2 linked regions of the Homo sapiens genome follow. The protein of the gene in region 1 interacts with the protein of each later gene in a pairwise test. Each region holds a gene or a part of one and is shown on either strand. Other genes may lie near its edges.

Evidence for each region.
Region 2: the proteins of DMXL2 (region 1) and PCNT interact in a two-hybrid assay, tested with the Homo sapiens proteins (one large-scale study listed by BioGRID and IntAct).

The regions. Positions count from the first base shown.
Region 1 is NC_000015.10:51,483,257-51,486,907, forward strand, and holds part of DMXL2 (dmX-like protein 2), read right to left. Parts: intron 3,082-3,651; coding exon 2,817-3,081; intron 1-2,816. UniProt on the Homo sapiens protein: May serve as a scaffold protein for MADD and RAB3GA on synaptic vesicles. Plays a role in the brain as a key controller of neuronal and endocrine homeostatic processes.
Region 2 is NC_000021.9:46,411,005-46,414,655, reverse strand, and holds part of PCNT (pericentrin), read right to left. Parts: intron 3,468-3,651; coding exon 2,589-3,467; intron 1,820-2,588; coding exon 1,664-1,819; intron 1-1,663. UniProt on the Homo sapiens protein: Integral component of the filamentous matrix of the centrosome involved in the initial establishment of organized microtubule arrays in both mitosis and meiosis. Plays a role, together with DISC1, in the microtubule network formation.

The DNA.
Region 1 (3,651 bases):
GCACAAGCACTATCTTGAGACCAGTCACCTCTGGCATGCGCACTGCTCTGGGGGCCAGGAGTCACTGTACCTCTCCAACACTGGGGACCCGTCTTCATTCCAAGCCTACATGGGTAGCTGAATGCTACAATCCCAGCTATGCAGAGCCTAGGACCATGACTGGCTATGACTTTGGTCCTGCATGGCAGGGAAATCAACCCCTACCATCACACTTTTGGTCAGAGAAACAATCTGGCAGTCTTGCCCAGGGTGAACCTGCCCTTGAGCCAGCCAAACCACTACATACATACCCTCCCCCAAATGGGAGAGGTCTCCAAGCCTACGAGCAGCTGATATGCCCCCAGGCCAGCAAAGCAGCTACATGCCCACACTCAGGACCTCAGAAACAGCGTGCAGCGCCCCTGCTCCCTGCACTCAGAGTTCTGGCCTGCCAAAGGCCCTGCGCCTGCAATCAACGCCTGAGAAATAGTCCTTCGAGCCGCCCCTGGCAGCACACCACCAGGCCAGCCAAGCAGCCAAGAGCCCACTTCCACGGCCCTGTGGGCTATCCCTGGTGGACACATCCCAGCCTGGTCAAACAGCCCTGCAGGCTGCTCCCAGTGTGCACACCCCTTAGCCAGCTGAACAGCCTTGCACCAGTCTCAGACCTGAGAAATAGCCCCATGAGCCCCTAACAGAAACGCCCCCATGCCAGCTGAGCAGCCTTATGCCCACACCTCAGGCCTGAGGAGCAGCCTCACTGCCACCCCAGCTAACATAGTACCAGACCAGCTGAGCAGCCCTGCACCTGCATCACAGGTATACAAATAACCCATGGGCAACACCTGCAGAAACACCCCCAGGCCAGCTGAGCAGCCATGCAATCGTGTCATGGGCCTGAGAAATAGCCTTATCCCCACCCCTAACAGACAAAACCCCAGGCCAGCTGAGTAGCCGTGAGGCCACATATGAGCCCTGTGGGCTGCTTCTGGCAGGCACACCTCCAGGCTGGCCAAGTGACCATGTACCCACACTCCTGGCCAGAGTAACAGACCTGTGGCCCCAATCCCAGCCAACCAGACCCTAAGCTGGCTGACCCATTGTGTGCACATATGCACCCCAACCTGAAAAACTGCCCAGCGAGCCCACCTGGCAAAGCTACATGGCCATCACCGCAAACTCTTTCAGCCTAGGCAACTGAGAGGATTGCAAATGCCACTAATGTGGATTACAGGTGAAGAAGCTACATGGAGACTACACTACTGTATCCATCTAACCAATGCACTCCACCAAACCAACACCTCAGGACCTATTCATAGTAACAAGTCTTTCCCTATGAAACCTACTCCATAAAATTAGAAGAGGCAACTTTTTCTGCCAGATACATAGAAATCAATGTAGAAACACACCAACCATGAGAAAGCAAGGAAATATGACACCAAAGGAAAAGAATGGAAAGGAAAATACTAATTCTCCAGTAACAGACCTTAGTCACAAGGAAACATGAAATGCCAGAAAAATAATTCTTAAGGAAATCATAGTCTTAAGGAAACTCATTCAGATACAAAAGAATACAGATATACAACTAAATGAAATCAGGCAAAGAATACATGATGTGAATTTGAAATTCACCAAGGAGATAGATATCATACAAAAGAACCAAACAGAAATACTAGAGCTAAAAAATTCAATGAATGAAATAAAAAATATAATCAAGAGCTTCAACAACAGACTAGATCGAGCAGAAGAAAGAATTTCTGAACTTGAAAACAGGTCTTTTGAAATAACTCAGGCAAACCAAAAAAAAAAAAAAAAAGGAAGAAGGAGGAACAGAAAAAAAAGAATGAAGAAAGCCTACAGGATTTATGGGACACTATTAAGTAAACAAATATTCATATTATGGGCATTCCAGAAGAAGAAGAAAAGGGAAAAGGTGAGGAAAACACATTTAATAAAGTAACAGCCCAAAATTCCCAAGTCTTGGGAAAGAGATAGGCATCTAGGTCCAGGGTGTTCAAATACTCCCAAATAGATTCAACCTAAAAAGATCCTCTCCAAGGCACATGGTCAAGTTGTCAAAAGTCAAAGACAAGGATCTCCTCATTTTTATTCCCAAAAGGTAGCCAGTGACCAATGACCAGTATTTCATTTCTTATGATTTGTTTCAGGAAACAACCAAAGGAAATGGAGGAGGCAGACATAACATGTGTGCACATTCAGGTGCATGTTTGTACAACATACATATGCCAAATGCAACAAGAACCACACTGCTGTGCATCTTACTTTTTTTCACTTAAAAATACAGCACATATTAACATATGTATCTACCTCAATTTTTAATGACACACTGTTTCTATATGTGGATATATTAAAACGTATTTAACTATTCTATTGACAAAAACTTAAAATGTTCCATTCCTTTCAAATTATTGAAAACAATGCTGATAAATATCCTTTAAGTGCTTGTAATATCTAAATTATTTAGGATAACAAGGAAAAAAGAAAATTTACCACAGAGGCATAAAGTTTTTCCAGGCCCATGTGACAAACCAATACGTGTAACAGCCAAAATTTCCATTTAAAAAAAATGGCTATATGATTATGTAAAAAGAGCTACAGAATGTGGCAAACATTTTGTATGCTTGTTAAATATATACGTAATTAGAATAGGATGGTAATCCTATCTAATCCTTTAGACACACAAGAAATTTTAATAATAAATTCTCAAAGTTGAAAAGCAAATCTGGTAATGATTTTTCTTAATCTAAGTGAACATTAGTTCAGAAAGTATCTCTTCCTTTAAAAAAGAAAAAAAAGAAATCCACAAAACGTCCTACCTTGATGTTCATCATCCTCCTTTGGTGTTTGTTCCAGTAATGTGTCCAAGGCTCGGGTGTAATCTTTCATTACCCAATAGGCAAGACTACGCAGGAAAGGATCAGGATGTAATCTTTTGCAACTGAATCCTGAGCCATCCTTTTGGCAACCCAAAATCTTCTGATTTAGGATGGATATATAAGTGGATGAAGTCTCAAATTCAGATTCATATAAACGGGCAATAACCATGGCTAGCTGAATATCTTCCATTTTTTCAAGACATACCTGCAAATTTAAATATTAATACTTATCTTACTTAATGATAATTATTTAGAGAGATGAAATATCCCATCAATACCCTGAAATTATCTACCATTTATATCCTAATGGTGGGCGAAGGGACAGTGAAGGGTAGTTAAATGATTGATAGGAGATTAAAGAATAGCAAAAAGAGTAACAGGTTGGAACCCAGTAGCTTCCAAACTAGACAGATCATTTATAAAATAAGCATGAAACAAAGTATATTAATATCATCTCAGACTTAAGATCAACTTAAATAACATTCATTTTTAAATTAAATACTATATATGACACTAGAATTTATATACCACTTCCTCTTAATTTCCAAACATATTTCTGCATAATCATAATTATTACTATCTGCCTCATATTTAAATAGTAAATAAATTATGAAATACAGCCATATGTTCTATTCATAGTCTCTGGGAGCCTGTATTCTAATGCAACTACCAGTTCTGAGCATTTGAGGTCATTTAGGCAATATGAGCATCTCTCAGTCAACACTTCTCTTTGCTTGAATATCTTCTAAGCTAAACTTCCAATTTTAAAATCTTA
Region 2 (3,651 bases), on another chromosome or scaffold:
GCATGTCCAGGAGGAGGAGAGTGGGCGGCTGTGTGTCCAGGAGGAGGAGGAGGAGCAGGGTGGGCGGCTGCGTGTCCAGGAGGAGGAGGGTGGGCGGCTGCATGTCCAGGAGGAGGAGGAGGAGGAGCAGGGTGGGTGGTTGTGTGTCGAGAAGGAGGAGGAAGAGGAGAGTGGGCGGCTGTGTGTCCAGGAGGAGGAGGGTGGGCGACTGTGTCCAGGAGGAGGAGGAGGAGGAGGGTGGACAGATGTGTGTCCCAGAGGAGAAGGAGGAGAAGGGTGGGTGGCTGTGTGTCCAGGGAGGCTGCGCTGGGCCTTGGACTGGAGGAGGCGAGGTGCAGACAGTGCATCAAAAGGTGCCATCTAAGGCTGGGCGTGGTGGCTCACGCCTGTAATCCCAGCACTTCGGGAGGCTGAGGAGGGTGGATCACCTAAGGTCAAGAGTTCAAGACCAGCCTGGCCAACATGGTGAAACCCCGTCTCTACTAAAAATACAAAAATCAGCTGGGTGTGGTGGCGCATGCCTGCAGTCCCAGCTACTCGGGAGGCTGAGGCTGCAGAATCACTTGAACTCGGGAGGCAGAGGTTGCAGTGAGCTGAGATCGTGCCACTGCACTCCAGCCTGGGCGACAGAGCAAGACTCTGTCTCAAAAAAAAAAAAAAAGAGAGAAAAAAAATAAAGGTGCCATCTGCACCTGATGCGGCCTGAGGAGAGGGCAGCTCCTGCGCAGGTGTTTCCTAGGGGCACTGGGGACCTGCCCCTGGTGCACTGGGTGGGAGAAGCACCAGCACCCGCTTTTCTCGCTAAATCTCCACCCTGCTACAATTTGAGATGGTCAAGGTGCAACCTCCTTCCCCGGGGAAAAGAAGTGCCAGCTTTTTTTCAAGTGACAATATGGAGTGAGGTGAACAGATTACAAGAATAAATCTGAGGCCTTTCAAAGTAAAACAGACGCTGGCCATCAAAGTCCTGAGCTGAGGTGAGGCCCACGGGGGCGATGTGGTCCTCCCATGAAAAGACAAACCAGGACTAACCCTCGAGCACAGTTAAATCCATTTGGATCAATTACAAGAAAAAAACCCAACTGATTGTTTCTACAGAGTGGCTTAAATGAAGCACGTACGAAATTTCACAACAGTTATGGACAGCTCGTTACAGAACAGAAAGGATTCAGAGAACATGTCACTGCAGGCACGGACTGTGCTCCTCACCTCAGCAGAATACCCGCCTCTGCCCAGGGCAAGACCCACATGTTCTGCACCCAGCCTCTCCCAGGGGGGCCTCACGCCTTCCCCCCTCCCCACACCTTGCTGCCGCGTGTCCAGCCTCTCCCGGGTGGGCCTCGTGCCTTCCCCGTTCCCCACACCTTGCTGCCGCGTGTCCAGCCTCTCCCAGGGGGGCCTCACGCCTTCCCCCTCCCCACACCTTGCTGCTGCGTGTCCAGCCTCTCCCGGGTGGGCCTCGTGCCTTCCCCGCTCCCCACACCTTGCTGCCGCGTGTCCAGCCTCTCCCGGGTGGGCCTCGTGCCTTCCCCGCTCCCCACACCTTGCTGCCGCGTGTCCAGCCTCTCCCGGGTGGGCCTCGTGCCTTCCCCGCTCCCCACACCTTGCTGCCGCGTGTCCAGCCTCTCCCGGGGGGACCTCGCGCCTTCCCCCCTCCCCACACCTTGCCGCCGTCCTCCAGACTCAGGCGCATTTCATTTTTCACCAAGAGCAGCTCCGACTGCAGCTGCCTCTGGCAGACGGTGAGCACTGACATCACGCCTTCTTGCTTGCAGAGAGGTGCATCCTTCAACGTCACCAGGACAGGCTGCAGATCACCCTTGACAGAGGAGACAGAGGAAAGCTGAGCATGCAGGAGGCTGTTGCTGGGGCTGCCCCTCAGGTGGCCTGGAGCTGGGAACCAGTACGGCAGCCAGCAGGGATGCCAGAGGGAGGTGGCAGTGACATCCACAGCCGAGCACCTTGGTCCACAGCAGGCCACATGGGAACGGGGCTGAGGACCCAGCAGAAAGCTGCCCCGACCCAGGACGACCCCACAGAGCAAGGTGGACTGGGGCATCTGAGAGTGGGAGCCACTCTACAAAGACCCAGCTGGTGTGGGGGTGGTAGGCACCAAGTTCCCAAGGTTCTGCTCAAATACAAGTGGAAGCCTTAAAAGACGACTCCCTACAGGGCCTCCAGCTCCAAAAGAAGAGCTCGCTCGCCACATCTCACACAGGCACTGCTCATCGACAGACAAACCATTTGGTTAGAAACCAGAGAAGCAGCTTAAGCGGACCCTCCTCACATAGTGAGCTCCGTTTCACTGGACAGTCCCTATTATGTGAAAGAAAGAATTGTTTTTAAAAGCTTAAAACGATAAGCTTAAAATGGTACAAAACAGTGAAATCCTCAGCCCAGCTTCACTGCGTACTGACACGGAACAGGCCCAGGCTGGCCCGAGCTTCAGGCCCCCTTTCTCCGCTGTGTCATGAGCCACCATGACAACTGCAGCCCCCAGTGCCCAGCGCAGAGAGAAGTCATTGACATCAAAGGAGAAAAGGAGAGTAAAAAAAAATACCCTGCCATGGCCCGCGGGGGGAGCCCACCTGTGGGTCAGGGACAACCGGCTCCAAAGCAGCATCATGGGAGGCCTCCACGTCGCCGGTGACCTGGGCCTTGGCGCCACCATCCATGCGAGGCTGTGGGTGGGCCCCGGGCACCCGTGTGTGAGCTGTGGCTCTGCGGGCCTGCCGCCTGTCCAGCTCCACCTGGCACCTCAGGAACCGCTGGTGCAGCACCTGCAGCTGGCGGCTGAGGCGGGCACACTGCGCTCGGAGCCACTGCAGCTCGGGAGGCGCCGCCCCGGCTGCCAGGGGCTGCTGCTCCAGGGCGCGGCGGATGCGGGCCAAGGCCAACAGGACGGCCTCCAGCTCGGCAGAGTGGGCCGCCTTCCGCTGGTTCAGAGCGTCGATTTCTAAATTTCTCTCGGCAATCGTCGCTTCCTTTGCTTTCAGGGCCGCTTCGAACTCCTGGATCCGGGAGGCCATGTCTTCGACCTCAGCCTCCCTGAGGGCTACATTGCGCTCCAGCTCAGCCAGCTGTAGCTCCGCAGCCTCCTCTGCGCCCTGGAGGCGCTGCTGCAGGGCCTCCAGGGCCTGGCTGTGCCTGCGCTCCTGGTCAGCCAGCAGCCGGCTCAGGGCCTCCTTGGCTTCCAGCGCAGCCTCGAGCTCGCCCTGTAGGGCCTGCCCACGAGGGCCCCCGGCCTGGGAGCAGAGCAGCTCGCTCTGCAGACTGCCAGCCTGACTGTCGCTGACTTCGTGCACCACAGGCCCCATGAGGGACAGCTCGTGCTGCAGCTTCTCAATGACTTCATGGAGTTGTTCAATTTCCTCTGCTTTCTCCTTTTGTAATCGTTTCTGATTCTCTTGCAGATTTTCAATAGTGGCTTTCAGCTCTTCAATCTCAGAACTTCTGGTATATATGACCTGAAGAGAGAGGACATTTCAGAGGCAAATTAAATGTATCCACTTCCGAATGTCCCTACTTCAGGGCACGTTACATCCTGAATGCATTCTTGGAGTGAAGACTCCATAGCGTGAAAAACAAAGCAGCCATAGAAGCAAACTGCTGGTGCCGGATGCACTCCACACCCACCTTGGCTGCCACTGG